Regions from separate parts of the Homo sapiens genome. Here all the other regions are reported to be linked to region 1. The links are microRNA targets in miRTarBase. Many come from high-throughput screens and were not tested one by one. Region 1 holds a microRNA gene; each other region holds the end of a gene's coding sequence.

Evidence for each region. The annotated mature microRNA hsa-miR-548ab reads AAAAGUAAUUGUGGAUUUUGCU and lies in region 1 at 2,182-2,203, shown strand. An mRNA with a match to its seed (bases 2 to 7 or 8) in the 3' UTR can be bound and repressed. Matches are read on the target gene's strand: a 7mer-m8 pairs with bases 2 to 8, a 7mer-A1 pairs with bases 2 to 7 and ends in A, and an 8mer does both.
Region 2: the mRNA of HMGN2 is a reported target of hsa-miR-548ab. Seed matches in the 3' UTR shown: 7mer-m8 at 6,135-6,141.
Region 3: miRTarBase lists SMAD5 as a target of hsa-miR-548ab. Seed matches in the 3' UTR shown: 8mer at 6,604-6,611, 8mer at 6,141-6,148, 7mer-m8 at 5,867-5,873 and 8mer at 1,651-1,658.

What each region holds. Positions count from the first base shown.
Region 1 is chr3:103,517,940-103,526,287 of GRCh38, reverse strand. It overlaps MIR548AB (microRNA 548ab), which reads left to right and starts at 2,172; the gene lies at 2,172-2,255.
Region 2 is chr1:26,473,036-26,481,383 of GRCh38, reverse strand. HMGN2 (high mobility group nucleosomal binding domain 2) reads right to left here. Exons shown (of 6, transcript NM_005517.4): 2 at 7,857-7,901; 3 at 7,652-7,681; 4 at 7,249-7,299; 5 at 6,717-6,812; 6 at 4,742-6,271. The coding sequence ends at 6,236. Among named protein-coding and RNA genes, the nearest start is that of HMGN2, 4.8 kb to the right of the region's middle. RefSeq lists silencers at 2,240-2,440, 8,220-8,348.
Region 3 is chr5:136,176,019-136,184,366 of GRCh38, reverse strand. SMAD5 (SMAD family member 5) reads right to left here. Exons shown (of 8, transcript NM_005903.7): 8 at 1,634-7,030. The coding sequence ends at 6,887. Among named protein-coding and RNA genes, the nearest start is that of SMIM32, 13 kb to the left of the region's middle.

The DNA.
Region 1 (8,348 bases):
TTCGTCCCTTCTGCTTACTGATGTTGATCCCTTACCAACGTTTTGCATTAAAAACTCAGTCTCAGCATCTGCTTCTCTAGGACCTAACAAGAGACATATAAAAATTGATATCATTCGGTATTTTCTCCTCTAAAGATGATATTAAGTTTCATTTTTCATTGCCATCATTGAATCAGAGAGAAATTAAAGAGGGTCAGAATAAGTCTCCCTCTACCCACAGAGAGATCAGCTATGTGTATATAGAAGTCTAGAGGAAAAGGGGAAATATATGTGATAGAAAAAGAAGCCACTGGTAAGCTAACTGAATGTTTTAGTCTGATATTTACTTGCCTCAATATAGTCTGTTCATATTCATTTTGAATTTTTCTTGTAGGACTCTCAAATAGTTGACTCCATTTTCTACCAGACTGCCTTTTATTTTTTAACCTCTACCAATCACCTACTTCCAGTCACCTTTTATTAGACTAAGCAATCTCAGTTACTACTGCTAGCTATAGATAGTTTATTTTCCATATATAAAACCTCTTTCCCTTTTCATTATCCTCATTTATACAGTTAGGTCCCCATCCTATCCCTGACATGTTTCTTCCATCTCAACTTTGCCATCACATTGAGGCACTTCTTGGTCTCTCCACATGTTGCCTATCAAAACTTATCTGCTGTAACCCCGATTCCAAGTGAGTTCTTGCTCTTGGTTATCAACCACTTGGAAAGTATTCAGTATGTTTTAATCATGTATTAAATGTGGATGGTGCTTTTATATTTTTCTACTTCCTCATATTAGCATTTAATACTTTATTCCATAGGAAAGAATTCCCCCTAATAGAATGTCTGGTTATTTGACACCTACAAAGCAGGCAAATTTTGAGCATGGAAAGCTACCTGGTGACCCTCAGTCAAACCATGTGGAGATTTGCCAACAGGAAAGATTAGCCTGGCAGCACACAGTACCGAGTCATAAACTATTTGACTCTAAAACCTGGATATGGCAATGATTGTATCAGTAGCCATAAATCAGGCAATTATCTGAAAGTGGGGAGAAATATGGGGTTCACTTTCAGCACCCCAAAATCATTTCACTTTAACAAGGAAACACACATTTTAATTCATTATTACTTTCATACTTCTTTTCTTTATTCATTGATTCTGAAGAATAACTAGAAATAATTTCCAAACTGTTGTTTACCTTTTCCACCACTCTTTGTAATCAAATTTGCATTTGTCCTTTGCTTTGTGGACAAACAAATGATTAAACATGTTTTCAATTATTCTTCGGTGTGCCATTAGCCTACCTCTTTTTTCCTTTTATTCCATTTGGTAAATAAAATAAAAATATTTAATATATGTGCTGATATATTTACCTTTGCATTAGATTTTCCCCTTTGTTTTTGAAAGAAGTCCCCTTCTTCAGGTAAATAATATCAAATAGAGTAAATTTGATCAACATTGTTGCAGGAATCCATTTTTCACAGTCAATTAGAGAAGCAGAAAAGGAGGAGCACCACCCTTCTTTCTCTTCCATATCTATTATTTCCAACTGGCCAGGCAAATTGATAGTGCATGTGAAGATGGCTGTGGAATCATGGCAAGCTTGTAACTGTGATATGGTCTATGAAATTCTGCCTGCATACCTATACAACTCCAAGCAATGTTTACAAATTCACACTACTCCTCTAGTAGGACATTTTGAGAGGAAAAATACTTTTTATGAAGAAAATTTAGGGTTTTAATAATATTTCTTTTGATTAAAGTATAATACCAATTTAGTACCCAAATTATTGAAAACATGGTTAAGTTCAAAGAAGATAAATGAAATATCCAAAACCCCATAATAAAATTGAAGCTTTATGTGTGCATATATGTGTATACTTGTGTGTATTTGTGCACTCATGTTTACTTGTATTTACATACATAAACTATGAGAATCACTCATGGTGTTCATTTCTCAAATTAACACATAGTCTACTGTGAGAAATTGAATCAATTAACTTATTTGTGTATTATATCTTGGAAGCCCAATTGGATATTCTAAATACTGGGCAATTAGAAATGGAATGAGCCGATATATTGGGTGGGTGAATTCTTTATACTAGTTTTGTTTGCTGTAGATCTCTATTTATTTATTTATTTATTTACAATAACATGTCTATAATCTGTTTTTTCCATCCATTATGTTGGTGCAAAAGTAATTGTGGATTTTGCTATTACTTGTATTTATTTGTAATGCAAAACCCGCAATTAGTTTTGCACCAACCTAATAGAAAGCATGTTCCATTGGGGCTAGGTCAGCAGTGTATTGGCTCACCACCTCTTCCTCAGATTACCTGATATAAATCAGGTGTTCAGTGACTATCTGTGGGTAGAGGTAGATATATGATTGCAGATTACAATTAGCCTTTCACTGTGCCAGGGTCTGATACAGGCATTGCAGAGCCTCATGTTTACACAACTGAGGACTCTCTTTTTTTTTTAAACAAATATTAAGACATTAATACAAACTTGCAAGACATCTTCCAGAGTCTCAGAAGAAGCCTTGGCTAGGGAGGTGCCCCCAAAGCTTAAGCTTTATTATTTCTTTGGAAAATTCACCTCTGCTTTCACTATATTTGATATATTAGTTTTAAATATTTTTGTCTTCACACATTCTGTCCTGGTCCATTTTTTTCTCTTTGTCTGCATTTTCTAGCTATATAGATACAATGTTCTATTGGATCTTCTTGTTTGTGAATGAAGAGATTTTATTTAATAAAAAGACATTTGGACATTTGATTTGGTTCTTCCCATGGTGTCTTCTTATGAATTGCTGTATGTTTTCATATATCTGATAATTACATTCTGTTTTCTCATACTTATACAAGGAATTCTACACTCACACAGCATTAGAAATTAAGATAAAATGTGTAAAATTCTGTTGTTTCCTGTCCTGAGTATTTAACCCCCATATGAAGAATGGAAACGGTTAGATAAGCCAGGGTTGCTTTGCCAGGACCCTGTGCTCATTAGCTCTCTGCATCACTAAGACATCTTGGAAGCAATGCTTTCTACCTGACGGTGCTATCCTCATCCCATGCTTTCTATCTGAGGGCGCTATCCTCATCCCATGCTTTCTACCTGACGGTGCTATCCTCATCCCATGCTTTCTATCTGACGGCGCTATCCTCATCCTATGCTTTCTACCTGACGGCACTATCCTCATCCCATGCTTTCTACCTGACATTGCTATCCTGTCAAGGGGTAATGAAGTTCATGACAATTTTTATTTGTTTTTGTTTTGTAGAGAACTACCATCCAACAGAAATACAATGTGAGTCCCAAAATAGAGCCACACATGTAATTTTAAAAAGTTACTTAAAAAAGTAAGAGAAAACAAATAAAATTAATTTTAGTAATATATTTTAACCCTGAATATATGAAATGATACTATCTGAAAATATATTTTATTGTCACATAATAATTATACATATTTATATGGTATACATGTAATGTTTCAATATGTATATACACATAATCATTAAATCATGATAATTAGCACACACATCACCATAGATATTTATCTTTTTATTGTAAGAATATTCAGAATTCTCTCTTCTACTTATTTGAAATACACTATGCATTATTGTTATTGTCACCATACTATGCAAGAGTACCAGAAATTATTCCTTCTATCTCACTGTAACATTGTACCTATTGACCAACCTCCTCTAATCTCCCCTTACCCCACTCTCCTCAGCTCTAGAAACCACTGTTCTACTCTCAACTTCAATGAGATGAAGATTTTTTATTCCAAATACGGGTGAGATAATGAGGTGTTTGTCTTTCTGTGCCTAGCTTATTTCACTTAACATAATATCCTGCAGGTTCATCCAAGTTGTGTCAAATGACATTTCATCCTTTTCATGGCTGAATAGTAGTCCCTTGTGTGTATACATACCACATTTTCTTTTTTAAAAAAATAATTTCAACTTTTATTTTAGATTCAGGGGGTATATGTGAAGGCCTGTCACATTAGGACACTGTGTGATGCTTAGGTTTGATGTACAAATGACACTGACACCCAGTGAGCACACCCAATAGGCAGTCCTTTCAGGCCTCACCCCATTTTTCTTTCCTTATTCCACTAGTCCCCATTGTCCATTGCTTCCATCTTTATGTCCATGTGTACTGAGTGTTTGGTTCCCATGTATAAGTGAGAAATGCAGTATTTGGTTTTCTGTTCCTGTGTTAATTGCCTAGGATTCTAGCCTGCAACTGCATCTATATTGGTGTGAAGGACATGATTTCATTCTTGTTTATGGCTAGGTAGTATTCCATGTGTACATGTGTCATATTTTCTTTTTCCAGTCAACCTTTCATGGGTGCCTAGGTTGATTCAATGTCTTTGCTATTGTGAGTAGTGCTGCAATGAACATATACATGTCATAACATGCCTTTTAGGCAGAACGATTTATTTTCCTTTGGGTTTATACCCAGTAATGAAATTGTCATGTAAAATAGTAGTTCTGCTTTAAGATTTTTGAGAAATCTCCAAACTGTTTTCCACAGTGGTTGAATTAATTTACATCACCACGAACAGTGTGTAAGCATGTCATTTTTTTCCACAGCCTCTCCAACATCTGTTATTATTACTTTTTTTTACTTTTTAGCAATAGCCATTCTGACTGGTATGAGATGATATCTCATTGTGGTTTTGATTGACATTTCTCTTATGGCGAACTTTTTTTTTTCATATGTGTGTTAGTCACTTGTATGTCTTTTTTGAGAAGTGCCTGTTCATGTCCTTTGCCCGTTTTAAAATGTTTTGTTGTTATTGTTTGTTTGGGTTTTGCTTGCTGATGTGTTTAAGTTCTTTATTGATTCTGGATATTAGACATTTGTCAGATACATAGTTTGTGAATATTTTCTCCCATTCTATATGTTGTCAGTTTACACTGTTAACAATTTCTTTTTCTGTGCAAAACCTCTTTCGTTTAATTAGGTCTTACTTGCCAACTTTTACTTCTGTTGGAATTACTTCTGAGGACTTAGCAATAAATTCTTTGCCTAAGCTATCTAGAATGGTATTTCCTAGGTTTTCTTCTAGGATTTATGTAGTTTGAGGTCTTATATTTAAATATCTAATCTATCATGAGTTAATTTTTGTCTATGGTAAAAATGGGGTGGGGGGGATTCAGTTTCATTCTTCTGCATATGGCTAGCCAGTTCTTCCAGCACTGTTTATTGAATAAGTGGTCCTTTCCCTGTTGTTACTTTTTGTTTACTTTTTTCAAGAATCAGTTGGTGGTAGGTGTGCAGTTTTATTTCTGGGTTCTCTATTCTGTTCCATTGGTTTGTGTGTCTGTTTTAGTACTACTACCATACTGTTAGAGTTACCATAGCCTTATAATGTAGTTTGGAATTGGGTAATGTCATGCCTTTGAAACAGTTCTGAACCTATAAATTGCTTTAGGAACTTTGGCAATTTTAATAATATTGTGTCTTCATTCCATGAGTATAAAATGTTTTCTCATTTATTTGTGTCATCTCTGATTTCTTTTAGCAGTGTTTTATAGTTCTCCTTGTAGAGATCTTTCACCTTTTTTGCTAAATGTATTCCTTAGTATTTTATTGTTTGTGGCTATTGTAAATAAGTTTTCATTCTAGATTTGGCTCTCAGCTTCAACCCTGTTGGAGTATAGAAATTTTTGTACATTAAATTTGAATCTTGAAACTTTACTGAAATTGTTATGGGTTCTAAAAGGCTTTTAGTTGAGTCCCCAGTATTTTTAGGTATGCAAGCATATCTTCTGCAAAAAGAGATAGTTTTTCTTCTGTATTTATTTGAATGCCTTTTTTTTTCTTTTTCTCGTCTGATTGCTCTGGCTAAGACTTCTAATACTATGTTGAACAGGAGTGGTGAGAATAAACATCCCTTATTTTGTTCCTGTTCTTAATAGGAATGCTTCCATCTTTTGCCTATTGAGTAGATGTTGGCTGCAGATTTGTCATAAATGACTCTTGTTATTTTGAGGTATATTCCTTCAATACCTAGATTGTTGAGAGTTTTTATCATGAAGAGATAAAAGATGTCAAAGAGATAAGAGATGTTGGAGTTTATCAAAAACCCTTTTGCTTCCATTGAGATGATCATAGGATTTTTGGATTTAATTCTATTTATAGGGTGAATCACATTTATTGATTTGTATATGTTGAAGCAAACTTGCATCTCAGGGATAAAGTCTACTTGATCATGATAAATTAACCTTGAATATTCTGCCAGATTAGGTTTGCTAGTATTTTGTTGAGGGTTTTTTCATATATGTCAAGGATATTGGCCTGTAGTTTTTTTATTGTTGTATCTTTGCCAGGTTTTTGGCATCAGGGTAATGCTGGCTTCATAGAATGACTTAGAAAGGAGTCCTTCCTTGATTTATTTTTTTTGGGGGGTGGGGGAGCAGAATGTCTTCAGTAGAATTGGTACCAGCTTTTCTTTGTATGCCTTGTAGAATTCAGTTGTACAGTCATCTAGTCTAGGGTTTTTTCTTGATTGGTAGGTTTTTTATTAATGATTAAATTACAGAATCTATTCAGAGTTTCAATTTCTTCTTGATTCAATTTTGGGAGCTTGTGCGTTTCCAGCAATGTATCCATTTCCTCTAGATTTTCTAGTCTGTGTGCCTAGAGGTGTTCATTATAGTCACTGAGGACCTTTTGTATTTCTGTGAGATCAGTGGCAATGTCACCTTTGTCATTTCTGATTGTGCTTATTTGTATCTACTCTCTTTGTTTCTTTGTTAACCTAGCTAGCCGTTTATTGATCTTGTTTGTCTATTTAAAGAAGCAACTTTTGTTTAAATTGATCTTTTGTAAGAGTTTGGGGTCTCAATTTCATTCAGTTTTACTCTGATTTTAATTAATTCTTTTTTTATACTAGCTTTGGGGTTATTTTGTTCTTGTTTTTCTAGTTCCTGTAGTTGTGATTTTAGTTCATTAAATGAAATCTTTCTAACTTTTCAATGCAGGCATTTAATGCTATAAACTTTCTTTTAACACTGCTATTGCTACATGTCGTAGATTTTGGCAGCTGTGTCTTTGTTTTCATTTATTTTAAATAATATTTTTTAATTTCTGCCTTAACTCTGTTGTTTACCCAAAAGTAAGGCAGGAGCAAGTTGTATAATTTGCATGAACTTGTACCATTTTGAGTGATCTTCTTGGAATTGCTTTCTATTTTCTATTGGTTCGAGAGTATGGTTGGTATGATTTCCTTTTTTTTTTAATTTATAAAGCCTTGTTTTATGGCTAAGAATGTAGTTGAGCTTAGAGTATGTACTGTGTGCACATGAGAAGAATGTATATTCTGTGGTAAATGGGTGGAGTATCCTGTAGATGTTTATTAGATTCCACTGGGCAAGTTTACAATTGAAGTCTAGAATTTCTTTTTAAGTTTTCTGCCTCAAAGATTTGTCTAATGCTGTCAGTGGGGTGTTGAAGTCCCCTATTATTATTGTGTTGCTATCTACAGTTTTTTATAAGTCTATAAGTACTTGTTTAATGACTCTGGGTCCTTTGATGTTTGGTGCATATGTATTTAGGTTAGTGAAGACTTCTTGTTGAATTGATCTTTTTATCATCAGGTAAAATGTCTTTTTTTCCCCTTTTTACTATTTCTTTTTGGTTCAAAGTTTGTTTTATTTGTTATAATAATAGTGGTTGCTGCTTTTTTTTGTTTTCTGTTTGCATGATGTATCTTTCTTCAATTATTTACCTTGTGTCTATCGGTGTCATTACATGTGAGATGGGTCTCTTGAACACAGCAGATGGATGGGTCTTTTTTGTATTATACAACTTGCCACTGTGAGACTTTTAAATGGGGCATTTAGATCACTTACATTTGAGATTAATATTGATATATGAGGTTTTGATCCCATTATAAAGTTGTTAGCAGGTTGCATTGTAGTTTCTGTTGTGTATTTGCTTTATAGGGTCTGTGGGCTATGTGCTTAAATGTGTTTCTGTGGTAACAGGTTTAATTATTGGATTTCTATATTTAAAACTCCCTGAAGGATCTGGTCTAGTGGTGACAAATTATCTAAGCTATTGCTTATCTGGAAACTATTTTATTTTTTGATAGCTTATGAAACTTTGTTTGGTGGTATATGAAAGTCTTGATTTGAATTTCTTTTGTTTGAGAATGCCAAAAACAGTCTCCCCAATATCTTCTGGCTTGTAAGGTTTCTGCTGAGAAGTCCACTGTTACCCTGATGTGGTTCCTGTCATACATGATCTGACCTTTCTCACTAGTTGCCTTTAAGATGTTTTCTTTAGTGTTGACCTTGAACAGTCTGGTGACTATATGCCTTGGTGATATT
Region 2 (8,348 bases), not on the chromosome of region 1:
TGTCTCAAAAATCAAAAACCAAAAACTACACACACACACACATATATATACATAAAGAACTCTGAGGCCAGGGGCAGGGGCTCACGCCTGTAATCACAGTACTTTGGGAGGCTGAGGTGGGCGGATCATCTGAGGTCAGAAGTTCAAGATCAGCCTGGCCAACATTGCAAAACCCTGTCTCTACTAAAAATACAAAAATTAGCCAGGCGTGGTTGTGCATTGCCTGTAATCCCAGCTACTTGGGAGGCTGAGGCATAAGAATCTCTTGAGCCTGAGAGGCAGAGGTTGCAGTGAGCCGAGATTGCACCATTGCACTCTAGCTTGGGGGACACAGCGAGACCGTCTGAAAATAAAAGAAAAGAAAGAATAGAAAAGGTGGCTCATGCCTGTAATCCCAGCATTTTGGAAGGCCGAGGCAGGCGGATCACCTGAGGTCAGGAGTTCGAGACCAGCCTGGCCAATATGGTGAATCCCCGTCTCTACTAAAAATAGAAAAAAATTAGCCGGGCACAGTTGTGGTCATCTGTAATCCCGGCTACTCTGGAGGCTGAGACAGGGAGAACTGCTTGAACCCAGGAGGCAGAGGATGCAGTGAGCTGAGATCATGCCACTGCACTCCAGCCTGGGTGACAGAGCAAGACTCACTCTAAAAAAAAAAAAAAAAAGAAAGAAAAGTAAGAGAAAAGAACTCTTACACTTCAACAATAAAAACAACCCACAAAGAATACTTTCCTGAGAAGCATGTTAAACACACACACACACTCCCTAATTATAACTTGGCAAAGGATGTGAATAGACACTTCTTTAAAAAAAGATGCACAGGCTGGGCACAGTGGCTCACACCTGTAATCCCAGCACTTTGGGATACTGAGGTGGGCAGATCACCTGAGGTCAGGAGTTCAAGACCAGCCTGGTGGCCAACATGGTGAAACCCCTCTCTATAAAAATACAAAAATTAGCTGGGCATGATGTTGGGTGCGTGTAATCCCAGCTACTCAGGAGGCTGAGGCAGGAGAATCACTTGAACCCGGGAGGCGGAGGTTGCAGTGAGCTGAGATCGCGCCATTGCACTCCAGCCTGGGCGAGAGAGCAAGACTGTCTCAAAAAAAAAAAAAAAAAAAAAAAAAGCCAGTACGGTGGCTCCCACTCATGCCTGTAATCCTAGCACTTTGGGAGGCCAAGGCAGGCGGATCACAACGACAAGGTCAGGAGTTCCAGACCAGCCTGGCCAATATGGTGAAACCCTGTCTCTACTAAAAATACAAAAATTAGCCAGGTGTGGTGGCGGGCACCTGTAGTCCCAGCTACTCGGGAGGCTGAGGCAGGAGAATCACTTGAATCCAGGAGGCAGAGGTTGCAGTGACCAGAGATTGCACCACTGCACTCCAGCCTGGGAGACAGAGCAAGACTCTGTCTCAAAAAATAAAAAATAATAAATAAATAAATGAGGCCAGGCATGGTGGCTCACACTTGTAACCCCAGCACTTTGGGAGGCCAAGGTGGGCAGATCACCTGAGGTCAGGAATTTGAGGCCAGTCTGGCCAACATGATGAAACCCTGTCTCTACTAAAAATACAAACAATTAGCCGGGTGTGGTGGTGGGCACACGTAATCCCAGCTACTCGGGAGGCTGAGGCAGCAGAATCGCCCAGGAGGGGGAGGCTGCAGTGAGCTGAGATCACGCCACTGCACTCCAGCCTGGGTGACAAAAGCAATACTGTCTTAAAAAGAAAGAAAAGGCCGGGCAAGGTGGCTCACACCTGTAACCCCAGTACTTTGGGAGGCCAAGGCAGGTGATCACCTGAGGTCGGGAGTTCAAGACCAGCCTGACCAACATGGAGAAACCCCGTCTCTACTAAAAATACAAAAAATTAGCCATGCATGGTGGCACATGCCTGTAATCCCAGCTACTTGGGAGGCTGAGGCAGAATAATTGCTTGAACCTGGGAGGAGGAGGTTGCAGTGAGCCGAGATCATGTGACTGCACTCCAGCCTGGGCAACGAGAGCGAAGTTCCGTCTCAAAAAAAGAAAGAAAGAAAGAAAAAAGTACGAGTTACCATATGACCCAGCAATTTCATTCCTAGGTATGTGCCCAAATGAGCTAAAAACATATGCCTACAAAAACTTCTATATGATATTTGTAGCAGCATTATTCACAATAGTCCCAAAGTGGAAATCACCCAAATGTACATCAACTGATGAGTAAATAAAATGTGACTTATCCAATGTGATATATCCATACAATGGAATGTTATTTGGCAGTACAAGTTATCAAATACATATGATACGGATGAACCTTGAAAACATGCTAAGTGAAAGAAACCAGTCGTGAAAAAACACAGATTGATTCCATTTAGATGAAATATCCAGAAAAGGTCTAGAGAGACAGAAAGTAATTAGTGATTGTCTAGGGATGGGGGAGGAAGAAATGGGGAGTTAACTGCTAATGGGCATGGAGCTTTTTGGGGGTGATGAAAATATTCAGAGGCTGGGCAGGGTAGTTCATGCCTATAATCCCAGAACTTTGGGAGGCCAAGGTGGGCAGATCACTTGAGGTCAGGAGTTCAAGACTCTAGCCTGGGCAACATGGCAAAACCCTGTCTCTACCAAAAACACAAAAAATTAGCCAGGCATGGTGTGTGCCTGTAGTCCTAGCTATTTGGGAGGCTGAGGTGGGAGCTTGAGCCTGGGAGGTAGATGCTGCGGTGAGCAATAAGCTGAGATCATACCACTGCAATCCAGCCTGGGTGACACAGTGAGACACCCCCATCTCAAAAAAAAAAAAAATATATATATATATATATATATATATATATATATATATATACACATATATTTATATATATATACACATATATTTATATATATATACACATATATTTATATATATATATATACACACACACACACGTATATATTCCAGAATTAGATAGTGGCAATAGTTGCACAATGTTGTGAATGTACTAAAACCACTGTAGTATATGCTTTAAAATTGTGAATTTTGGCTGGGTGTGGTGGCCAGCACTTTGGTAGGCCAGGGTGGGAGGACTGCTTTGTGCCCAGGAGTTGAATACCAGGCTGGGCAACACAAGACTCCATCTCTTAAAATAATGATATAGTGGTGACTTTTTTTTTCCCCAAGAGCGTTAAGTATATTTATTTTTTAAATTTTATTATTATTATACTTTAAGTTTTAGGGTACATGTGCACAACGTGCAGGTTACATACGTATACATGTGCCATGTTGGTGTGCTGCACCCATTAACTCGTCATTTAGCATTACGTATATCTCCTAATGCTATCCCTCCCCCCAAAGTGGTGACTTTTAATGGTATATGATTATTTCTCAATTTAAAGAAGGGGAGGGGTAATTCTCAGCAGTGTTAACTGCTGCAATGAATCAGGCCAGGCCTGAAGAGACCGTGCAGCAGGCTGTCCACACAACAGCCATTTTCCTCTATCATCATCCCTCCTCTATTGAATTCCAACAATTCTGACTGGTCTAGGCAGATTCTGTGGTTTCATTCCTCTTGCTATGATTGGTTTAGGAGTGGAGAGGCAATCCAGATCTGCCCAGTGAAACACAGGCTGCTGGGGTGCTTGTAGGAAATATTTCATTCTTCTTAAATGCAGGGAAAAAAGGAGCAGTCCTCCAGCCTCTTGCCATTGGTATGGCAAATTACGATGTCTGGAGCAACTGCCTTGAAGGTGAGGTGGCTGGAGAACATGTTGAGGGCGGCAGAGCAGAAAGACAGGAAGCCCACCTGGGTCCTCACAACTGCCCGACCTCGGGACTTGTATCAGATGAATCCTCTAGTTTGTGCCATTTATGTTACTTTTTTTTTTTTTTTACTTAGAGCCCAAGCATCTGGTGACTTTTCCCGAGATCTTAAGAATGGGCCTGGAGACAGGGCTGGCACTGAGCATGCTACCATGGCTGTCTTAGTGAATGGTCCTTACCACGTTTTGATGTCTGGTTTGGTTTTAGGCCCAGCTACTTTCATGGTCCAGAGCCAGTCAAATCAGTATTTTCCAGGAAGGAAAAAAAGAAAAAAACTCGAAAAAGTTCAAGCTTACCCTACTCATCCTAATTATATGGCAACAAGAAGAGGGCCAGAAAATAAGTAAAAACAGACTATCAAGTTTAACCTCAGCCAGTCGCTTCACATCTGAGCCTCACTCTCGACTACAAAATGGGGCTACACCTGTATCTCATAGGTCTGACTCAAAGATTAAAGAGCATGAGGCAGAGCTGTTAGCATAGCCCAGGGCTTAGCAGACTTGCCACTAACAAAGAACCTCAGCTGTAACTTTCTCAAATTCTGCAACCTCTGCTCAAATACCAGCCCACTACCCCTGACCATTCTAAGATGTCTCTTAAGTTTCCTCTGGAAGAGGACACCGCTTTTAGAATAAAAATTACCCGTCTACAACCTAGAATGAATGACTTCAGCAATAATGAAAGTAAATGGCTGGTAACTGGCTAAATGGACAAATGGTATTTTATCCTGAATAAAAGTCTGTCAGAGATGACTTTTGTCTAGTTGAGGGTCTGAATCCTGACTCTGCTGCTCATTAAATGTACACATAACCTTCAACAAGTTTCATCTGTGCCTGATTCCTCATCCATGAGTGTGATACATATATTACACAAACATCTCAACACTTGAGAGATAATACACAAAAAACCTCAAGAACTTAACAGCGATACTTTTTTGACTAAGGGAATGGACAAAGCAATTAGTCTCCAATTTACTTTATTCCTGTCCAACAATACAGCCAGGTCTGTGAAAGCAAATTCAAGGTGCAAACATGAATTTGTTACCAGTTCCATATTCTAACAAATAACTTCTTGCCATTTCACTTAGAGAAACGTGGGGTTCTCTGCATCTCCAAACTAAAGGAATCAGGAAAGACCCCATTGTCTTTGTTTGCAGGTCTACTTAGGAGCAAAGTGTCATCTACCTTACAAATGGACAACTGTGTACACATTCACAGAGACACTCTCTGACATGAGTCTATTAATTTGCTAATTTTATAGAAGTTGCAAATGCAGATGGAAGTAGAGAGGCTCCTGTCAGCTACCCAGCCAAAACCGCAGATCTACCAAAAATCTGCATTTAATACACTTCATGTATTCGGAGTCATGCAAAAAACAAACACTGCAGGGAATGCTGCATAACCAAGTACAGAAATCACTCCATACTCCCAGCCTTTCACCATCAGCTAAGTCTACTCCTGGAATCCTTCCTAACTGCACCTAGCACTGTGTGTTTTGGAAGCTGACTATAAATCAGTGAAAGATCATCATTAGACTGTACATGGAGTACCTCAAAGCAGAACGTACCCTGTTCCAAGAGACTTGGATAAACCAGGTTACCCCACTTGTGGGAAAAGATCAGAGGCAGCATTCCAAGCCAAACTGTATCCAGCTTTATTAAAGATACTTTCCATAAACAATCATGGTATTTCAGGCAGGACATGGGCAGACAATCGTTAACAGTATACAACAACTTTCAAACTCCCTTCTTCAATGGACTACCAAAAATCAGAAAGCCACTATAAAACCCAATGAAGTCTTCATCTGATGCTCTGAACAGGGAAAGTTTAGAGTGAGGGTTGACATTTCACATTTAGCATGTTGTTTAACAACTTTTCACAAGCCGACCCTGACTTTCAGGAAGTGAAATGAAAATGGCAGAATTTATCTGAAGATCCACAATCTAGAAATGGAACCACTGCTCTTTTGACAGGTGCCATCTCAGTGGCATCACTGGAAAGTCCAGATTGCCTGACACACTGGTAACCAATGACTAGGGGTCAGGTCTCAACAGATGTCTGGGCTTAAGGGAGTTAAGTCTATGCTGAACGATGGAAAGGGAGAAGAGGACATAAAAACAAATTTGTTTTTCTATACCACAAGGCTTTTGTGCCAAGGTGGCCATGTGTGTCAAAGTCAGGGAATCCCTCCTCCTGGGAGCCAAGAGGAAGTCTCTCAAAACTAGAAGGGAAAGGTGTTTTCTCCACATCAATCCAGCTTTGGAGACATTCTATTAGTGACATATGCCCCTTCCCCCAAAAACAACAATGAAGTGTTCTGTGTGCTAACAACATAGCTTTTAAAAAAAAAAAAAAAGTAAAACAAAATTCTGCATTTTTATAAAACTTGATAAAAAATAGTATTTCAAACTGTACAGTCACCAGAAGTACACAGTTATCAAAAATGCACACACTTCACTTGGCATCTCCAGCACCTTCAGCTTTCTGTGCCTAAAAGAAAACAGACAAATTAATGCAATGCGTAGATTTCAAAACTATCTGTGTTCACATTCCACCTACAGCATCACTTTGCTCCCAGGCCAAAGTTCAGGTTTCAGGTACTGAGACTCAGTATTTCTTCTGAGAATGACTTACTAGGTAACTTTGCTAAGTCACCTCTCCTCTGGGCCTCACTGTAAAATTGAGGTAGGAAGAACACCAGAATAAGAGACCTGAGGTTACTCCTAGCTTGAAAACTTCATGTAGTATAAAACACAATGCCCTTCAGCTGACAGTAGAGATTTCAAGAATCCAGGATTTAAGTTAACAGGAAAGCCACAAGCACACTGGACCAAATGGTACATTTGGAGTGATACAAGAAAAGGGCAATTAAATTTTTGATATCAGCAACTAACTGAATGAACAAATCTAACAAAGGGTGAAACAGCAGTTATACCTGGTCTGTTTTGGCATCTCCATTTTCTGCAGGGTTATTCCCCTCCTTGCCAGCATCAGCTTTTCCCTTTTTCCCTTTGGGTACCTTCTCTCCCTTCTGAAAAAGGGGAAAAAATAGAACTGTTTCTCCCCATTTCGTATTACCAAGGTATGGTCTGCAAAGTTCTGCACAAGGTAGGATTGTTTACTCAAGATAAAACACAAACCCTCACCCATTTGACAAGAACAACTGATCAAAACTAGGCTAAATTATCTGTAATTTGCTATAATCTTTAGTACTTAGAATTTCCTAAGTAACAGAAGAATAAATTAGTTTAAACCCTGGGGTATTTAATATTTAAATGCAGATTTTCCTATAAACTAACAACAGAATTCTTGATCAGGAAACCAACGTTATGAATGACACGGACGAGGTAAGCTATCCACACAGTTTATAACCTCCATTAATGGAGGCACCATTATGCTAATTAAGTTAAGGCACTAAGGACAGTCCTCATTCTGTGAAAATGATCAGTTCCAATGTTAGCACTTACCTTTGCAGGGGCCTTTTTAGGCTTGGGCTCTGGCTTTGGAGGAGCAGGTTTCTTTTTTTGGCAGGAAGAGAGGAAAAAGTGAACATCAGTACAATGGACTGAAGAAAACCACCCACAACCAACCAAAAGTACCAAGGGTAGAGAAGTTTCTCCTCCTCCTCAAAAGTTTTTGTGGTTGGCTTTCTTCTAGAATGTTGGATTTCCAGAAGCCCACTCAAATGTCCCACTTTGGCTACAGGCATCAGAATTTCAGAACCAGCAAAACCCAAAGGGGCAAGAGTCCCAAGTAGAGGCAATGATTCAAAACCAGGCACTAACCATAATTCATGGAAGCAAAGGGAATTGTTTTTTGATGTTTTTTAGTTTCAGGGACAAGCACGAAAATTCAAAAGCATACACTTACAGCAGACAACCTCGCGGATCTTCTCTGTGGCTATTAAAGACAACGAGAAAGTTAGAAATAGGACAGGTAAGTCGCTTTGAAAGTTTGGTATCAATTTGCTCTAGATTATAGGAGTGTAAATTCAGGACACAGGTTACGGTTAATCACCGAGTCCAGTGGCCTCTGCTAGTCCAAGGCTTTGACCCTTGAAGAGAGAATGACTTACTTCGTCCTTCACCTTTGCTTTATCTCCCTTAGCATCCCCTTCAGCCTATAAGAAACAAGAACAAAAAACTGCAGATTTTGAGGTGGTTCTTAATTACTTCCCAAACTTTAGAGTGCTAAAAATGAAAATTAAAGCAGTCGTCCACACAACTTTTCTAGGACATAAATGAGTGAGCCCGACGTTCGTATAAGAACGAAGCGCGCGCAGGAGCTCCGGCTCGCCGACCCCGAGAAGCGAGGGCTGGACCGGAGCGCAGCCGGGGAGGGCAGCGGAGCCCGCACCACCGCGACAGGCAGGAGCAACAGCTGCAGATGGCGCAAACAAACCCCCTCCGGAGGCGGAGCCCAGCGCCGTTGCTATGGCAGCCGTCGAGGGCGGGAGAGGGAGGCGCGCGCAGCCCGGGGAACTCGTGGGCGGCGACAGCGCGCGTCTCGTGCGCGGGGAACGTGGGCGAGGGGGCGGGGCCATACCGCACAAGCCCCGCCCCTCACG
Region 3 (8,348 bases), not on the chromosome of region 1:
AAAGAACAAGTTTTGTTTTTGCAAAGCTTATGATAGACTTACAAACTCAATGACAAAAATCAGTAATATTTAAAATGTTAAATGGGAAGGGTGTTTTAAAAATGCTTCCTTCTTTCAATCATAAATACTACAGAGCTCTAAATAAATCTTCCTTATAAGCATTGCTGCAGTCTACTGACAATCTTAAAAATGTTTATAAAACGATAGCTGCATCAAAACTGCTGTAATACAAAATAGTATTAGCCACTGTCCCAACCCCTCATCACCTGAACTGTTTTGGCTACAGCAACCTGAAAACTAATTATCTTAAACCCAAGAGAAGCCAACATCCTCTTAGTGCTCACTGAACCTTCTTCCGCTAGGACAAGTGTGCTTTTTTAAAAAATACACTTCTAAAACAACCAGTGATGTTGCTACAAAATACCTTACAAAATGCCTTTTAAGTAAAAAGACATAGGAAGGAACTGATTCTCAGAAATTGGTAGGAATGTCCAATCTTTTGGCTTCCCTAGGCCACAGTGAAGTATAATTATCTTGGGCCACACATAAAACACACTAACACTAACGATAGCTGATGAGCTAAAAAAAAGAAAAAAAACTCGCAAAACAATCTCATAATGCTTTAAGAAAATTTACCAATTTGTGTTGGGCCGTATTCAAAGCTGTCCTGGACCACATGCAGCCCATGTGTGCAGGCTGGACAAGCTTGAATAGAGTCTTTTTTATCTATTAAAAAAAAAAAAAAAAAAAAAAAGAACAAGTGCTTTTATCTTTATCCTTTAGGGTTAATATGTAGTTTGGGTTTTTCTACATTTCTGGCAAGGGCACATGATTTTTCACCATTCCTTTTTTTTTTTTTTTTTTTTTTTTGAGACGCAGTATCGCTTGTTGCCCAGGCTGCAGTACAATGGCATGATCTTGGCTCAGTGCAACCTCCACCTCCTGGGTTCGAGCGATTCTCCTGTCTTCAGCCTCCCAAGTAGCTGGGATTACAGGCACGCGCCACCACACCCGGCTAATTTTTGGATTTTTAGTAGAGACGGGGTTTCACCATGTTGGCCAGGCTTCTCTTGAATTCCTGACCTTAGGTGATCCACCTGCCTCAGCCTCCCAAAAAGCTGGGATTACAGGCCTGAGCCACTGTGCCTCGCTCACCATTCCTTTCTAATTAGAATGAGTTTGCATGTCTTGTATATGTAATTCAGAGGTTGGTAAAAGTGTGCAACACAGTGACAATGATGCAAAGTCAGTCTGTGATTTAAAATTTTTTCAAAAAAGAAGACAAAAGGAAATAAAAAATTGTAAATTCACAAAGTGGATCATCAAAGGTTGATACACCGAGGTCAAGCAACATAAGAAGTAATTATTCTGAATCAAAGAACTAGTGGAAATGTAAAAGATAGTAACAATTTTAATATTTGAGTTCTTATGTTCTAAGTACTGTTCTAAATACTGTATTTGTATTACACTTCAATTAATCTTCCCTCAAATCCTTCCTATGAAGTAGACTTTTCCTTTACAGGTCAGGAAAGTGAGGCATAGAGTGGTTAAGCAACTTGTCTAAGCTATGAGGCCCATGACTCAAACGCAGGCAGGCCAACTCCAGAGCCAAAACAAAAAAAGACACATTAAGCAGGTTTTGAGGTTTATTAAAGTAAAGAATTAGCAAACAATATGCAAAAACAAAGTTCTTAAGAGTTATGGCTTTCAAAAGCACAATATAGTAAAACCTAATACATTTTCATAAGTATCAAAATAACAGAATTGAAGCATGTTGCTAGAATTTCAGCTTCTACAACATAAACAGAAGCACAACAAATACAAATAAGCAGCAGACCTACAGTGCAGCCACTAGCTTGGTCTTCATTATCTGTATATGAAATATCTTTTTAAGAAAATGTGGGCAGGTAGATACAAACATTCTATTTCCATGATTACAATCCTCTTCGATTTTAAAATAAGTGAATTTCAAAATACAACTTACGCCAACCATATTTAAAAAAAAAATCACTTGCCTAACCATTATCTTCTAGAGTTCCTATAGTTAAAATACTTTATGAATAAATCAATGCAACATCATCTTCAATGATATTAGAAGGGAAAATCTGACCCTAAAAGATTTTTTTTTTTTTTCCACAAAGAACTTGGGATTCTTTGGCCTTACTGGAGTTTTGTTATAGCTAACACCAGTCTGTATTAATTAAGAAGGCACTATTAATGAGGGACGGAAAAATCTACCTGTACACAAAATTCTGTACTTTAACAGCATCTTCAAATAAACCTTTAAAGGATAATGGTTTACGATCATTTTAAGAATTTTAAGAACTGAGTTATTTGGACAAGAACCATACAAACCTTTTTCACTCTGCCATGAATGATCGAAGAATCCTGCTCTAGGACTGGATCTTTTCAGAGAAAATAACTTATCACCTGTTTTACTGCAGTTGCTACTAGCAATTATTATATAGCATGTGCTCTTCAAAACAGAAATAAAAATTGATGTGTGAAATCCCTTTCATTGGTTTTGGTAAACCATCCAATTTTGGGCTGTCATTTCAATTATAATACAGTTGTATTTTAAGAGAGAAGATAATCCAATATAACAAAGGCTTGATAAATATTGTCACTCTGTAATCAGGACATACTAAACTGTAATTCAGCGAATTCCAAAGAACTTTCCAGGTTTCTGTCCAGCAGGTAGAATTCTTTGTTTATGCAGAAGAAATGCCTTCAATTCTCACATTCGATTCAGGCATCTTGTGTGATAAGAAAAGCTCCTAAGAATCTTACTTATATCAATGAGAAAAATGCTGCTGCTCTGGGAGACCTGAGATTACTCCCCAAAAAGCTGCCCTAATAATATCTGATACCACCTATAAACCACCACTTAGGAAAACTCTCTCCATAAAAATCACCAAACACTTCTAAAACCACCAGGCTACCTACTACCCTAAGATACTTGCTCATCTAGCTGAACAATATAACGATGACACACATTTATATTCATACCCAAGAGATTAGGTGAGGATTTAACTAGTAAGACAAAGAAGGGATCTGACATTCTTTAAAGTTAAAATGTAAGTCCAAAATATAAGTCATCACAAAAGGCTGAACTCAGTAATTATCAAAAAATTCTTCCTTCCTCATGAAGTAAAAAGGATATTTATATATTTTAAGTGGCAAAGGTGATAATCATCCAAAGTACTATTAAGCAATTGATTAGAAAAAGTATAAAGAAATAGATCTAAATTGGTACATCAGATGTTCTCTATCACAGAAGTACAGCACTTTGATAGGTACTATCAAACTTTTTAGAGTTTCTCTGCTGTTGGAAGAATTTCATTTTTTGTATAAACATTCTCTTCCAACAAAATACTACCACACAGGGGAAGGAACTGTTCCCCACAGGTACCCTCAGGTAATATGGAAGGTTTTTAACATGAACCCCAGTTCTAATCTTGACAACAGATTTCAGGTATGAGTACTTAATAATCACTTCACATCCTGAAGGATATCTTACTCTCAAATGTTATGAAAGGTATAAAATAGCTACATCCTCTATCTGTGCCATTAGATGTGGCTTGTTGAACTGTCTAGTACTCTTACTCTGGATTTCACCTCAGAAACCCAACCAATTCTATTATTTTTTTTATATAGCAACAATACAATGTGAAAAATTATTTATATTCTGACACACATATTTGACATTTTGATTGACGTCTTCCTTAAATCTCCTCTTAAAAAGAGGGTTAGTTTTAGCAGATCAATAACACGCCTACTAGTTTACATTTCACGTCAGCCAGGCAATACTGACCAGACCAATACTGACCAGACCATAAATATTATGTAGAAATGTTAAGCAAATGAATCTCTTATATCTTGCTTTTTGCCAATCAATATCTTTTTGTTGCTTTAATTCATTACTGAGATTTCATTCTATTCTGCTGTTTGCATTACCAAACTGGTTGCAATTTTATTATTCCCAGATTCTGTCTTTTCAGCCAGCATAAATATATTGTACATGCTATGTGATTATTCTAGTGGTGCTAGAATTTTACTATAAAACATTCTGTAGATTAAATTAAAACATATAACCATAATTTGCTAAAATGGTTTCTTTCAGAGGTACTTTCCTTTCACTAGCCAGTTTTTAAAAATCTTACTAGCAAATTTTATCTCCTATACATAGATATATGAAAATCCTTAGGGACTGTAAGAATAGCTGGACTGAATAAAATTTTCATTTAAAGTCCAAGGGTGGGGAGTTGACAACTTTTAGGAGATACAACAGGCTTATAGTTCTCTGTCAAACTCTTAGTTGTTAATAGCTTTAGTACTGTCATTCATGAGACACAACTCCTAAGAGAAAACAAAGAAAAGGCCAATCACGTAAGATCTTGTTAACTCAAGACTGTGACATAATGACCCCAAATAAAAACAATTTTTAATTAACTCACAGTAGAAAACACCAATAAAACAACTCTCTAATTTCCACTAGTTTACTGCAGCCCAATGAAGTTGATTACATACATCAGTCATTCAATTGGAGTAATTTTTTCCTACAAATTTGTTCCAGAGATCATGCCATAAGCCTGGTTAAGTAAAAGAATGATGAAAATGCCAAAGTTCTATCAAGTAAGCAAATATTCTCTTTCGTGTGGCAGACAGAACTCTGGAAGAAACAGAATGCATGTCATGTAATACTTACATTTAAGGCTCAGGTGACTGTCAGAAAGTATTTCTTTTACCCAGCAAAGAACTGTGAGCTGAAACACAAATGGCAGTTCATCTGAAAGAACTAAAACCATCCACTGGCTGCACATTGAAAAAGCAATAAATAATGACACAGAAAACAAAAGAAATTGCATAATTCTTTCCTCGAAAATGCTTTTTTTTTTCTTCACAAGAGCAGAAAGGACAAAGTGGAAAGTCAAACCAAACTAACATTTTAAACAGAAGAATGATATGACTCCATATACTTTCAAAAGGCACCAGAAAATAAAGCTTTCACTGATAGGTAAATTAGGTCATTTTTTTTTTCCAAAATAATTTCTTCATTCTCATGTCATAATTAAGTGTCCATTTGACAGCTCCTGAGAAAAAAACTGGTTCAAAGTTCTTTATCCAAAGCCAAAAACATGATTGATTAAATGGATATTTTGGAGTTCGTTCATGTCTTTTCTCTCTAAAGATTGTGTTTTGGGAGACTAGCTTCCACATAAGTACTTAAAAAATGGAAAAAGAGGATCATCGATAAATGAGAGAAGAGTCTATATTCGTTGATGGGTGAGTGTTTTGTTTTGTTTTGTTTTTTGAGGCAGAGTCTCGCTCTGTCGCCCAGGCTGGAGTGCAGTGGTGCGATCTCGGCTCACCACAACCTCCGCCTCCCAGGTTCAAGTGATTCTTCTGCCTCAGCTTCCCGAGTAGCTGGGACTTCAGGCACGCACCACCATGCCCAGCTAATTTTTGTATTTTTTGTAGAGACAGGGTTTCACCATATTGGCCAGGCTGGTCTCAAACTCCTGACATCATGATCTGCCTGCCTCAGCCTCCCAAAGTGCTGGGATTACAGGTGTGAGCCACTGTGCCCAGCCGAGTGTTTTAAAATCAGCTATCCCTACATCCACTGCTGATTCATTTAGTATCAAATCAGTAGCCTTATCCTTGGGGCCCAACTGAAGAGCCTCCTACGGCTCCAGTGCATAGGTCCTTGCGTAGGGAGGCTGATACAAGTAAGCTGACACTTGTAAGAGCAATGGGATTAACTACATGATTCTCCAGCACTGATAACACCCATAAAACTGTAGGGAATTAAAAAGGCACCTTAAGTTGGAGCTATAGAATAACAGTCTTATAACCTAGGTTGAAAGTAAAACAAAAACCAGAAAAAAGCATAACTTCCTACAAATGTAATCTATAAATTGCAGTGTTTGTTAATACAAAAAAGGTACCAAGGACGTAAGGATAAGCATCTAAGTCCAAGTCACTTGAGTGTATTTTATCAAAGGTTATGCTAAAAACTGTCACCCATAAAAGTGCAAAATAAAAGATTAATGCATGTCAAAAATAGAGTTCTTGCAACATTGTCCAAAAGCAGCAAACATAGTTGAACAAGGCTGTGCATGCACTGTCACTAGCTATAAAGTAATGCTTATGACAGATTTTGAGTAAATGACATATACTTGAGATCAGTTATTTGCAAAAATTTTTTTAAAAAAGGAAATGTCTTACAAAAGATATATAGCATGAAGTCACATTACACTGAAGAACACTTATCTGTATTAAATGTAAATTTTATGTCATCTAGAAAACTATCATTTTGCTTTTACTGAACACTACCAGTTACAGCAGTGCATAGTGTTCATTCAAATAAAACTTTATAGTTTCTTTTAAGCCCCTACCATACACTTTTGCAAAACAATGAATTGTACTTTTTTTTTTTAAGTTGGTGGGACAAAGAAACTGGTAAAAGTACAGCTTCTGGAAGATCGAGAGTAGGAGGGAAAACTTACTCTTCACTGTATATGCCCTCTTATAAGCTACTATAATTTTTCATCATGTGATGCATTTTCAAATAAATTTAATAAAAAATTGTTAGGGCAATAAAGTAAAAGCATGTTCCAGTTTAAGATCAATGCCAAATTTCTGAACTGGGGCATAATACTTACTCTGCATCTTTTACAACACTTCTAAGAGTTAATCACATGAACATGAATACAAACAAATGTAGATTCATCACAAAATACAAATGTATTGGTCACAATTATGTAGAAAAAAATAAGCTGTAATATCTGTTTTCAATGTAAGCTCACAGTATCTGTACTCAAAGTTTCTCTAAAATTAAAACAAGTCCACTAACAATATAATTGAAAAGAATACTTCTGCATTATGAAACAGAAGATATGGGGTTCAGAGGGGAGCCCATCTGAGTAAGGACTTTATCCAGCCACTGAAGAGGCCCATGAAGATGAATCTCAATCCAACATGGGGTGCTGGTTACATCCTGCCGGTGATATTCTGCTCCCCAACCCTATGAAAATGAACAGATATCATCACAAATCCCTCTTTAAACTGTCAACCACTCTAAACCAATTTTACCATAAGAAAAAGATAGCTTTTAACAGTAGAGATATGTAGAAGTTACATAAAGAGAATAACTATCACAAAACCAGTCTTAGTATTCACCATGAAATTAAAAGACAACAGCTACATTATTTAAAGATTCATGAATTCTAAAATAATATATAATTCCCTTAAAAGAAACCCTTAGAGCCAGTTATAGTTCATAATTTTTTTTAATCTTAGAAAGGTAACACAGTACAGTATCTCATAATTAAAACAAATATTTCTGATCTGAGATACATTCTCCCTTAATGGGATAAATGCAAAATAGAAAATCACCACTAGAACACCACAGTAATAATTACTGTAGACAAGATATATTGAAGAATGCAAAAATTGTGGGTAAAATATAAAGGAGAAACAGTGTATTTACATAGCCCCAAAGAATCTGCCTGCAAATATTTATAAATACCATTTTCTCTTAATTTCTTTGTAAGACTTAATGACTATTTAAAGGAAAAATTTTAACTGTATTATAAGATATAATGTGCAGATGTAAAATTTATGAATAGCACAAAGAATAAAAGAAGGTAATTAAAACTCTTCAACAGCAAGGTTTTCATATTTTACATTCTAAAAATAGTACAATATTAACTCTAGGTAGATTGGGGTATGTTAAAGATAACGTGGTAATTCCTGGAGAAACCACTAAAAAATGTAAAGAGATGTCACTTAAATACTAATAAAGGAATCATATATAAAAAATCAAAATCAAAATCATAAATAGCCTCATGTAAGATCATGTCACATGTCAGAGTTTCTTTTTTTTTTTTTTTTTTTTTTTTTTGTGAGACAGAGTTTCTCTCTTGTTGCCCAGGCTGGAATGCAATGGCGCAATCTTGGCTAACTGCAACCTCCGCCTCCCAGGTTCAAACAATTCTCCTGTCTCAGCCTCCCTAGTAGCTGGGATTACAGGCACCCACCACCATGCCCGGCTAATTTTTGTATTTTTTAGTAGAGACAGGGTTTCACCATGTTGGCTAGGCTGGTCTCGAACTCCTGATCTCAGGTGATCCACCTGCCTTGGCCTCCCAAAGTGCTGGGATTACAGGTGTGAGCCACCTCACCCGGCCCAGGTTTTTTTTTTTAACGAAAAATTTTTTATTTTCAAGTTGTTTGAATATCAGATAAGGCATTGTAGATATTGATCAATACATGCATGTATAATTTAATGTGGCAGTCACATAGTGATTATCCTTTAAGGTTGGAAATTACTGGGATGAACT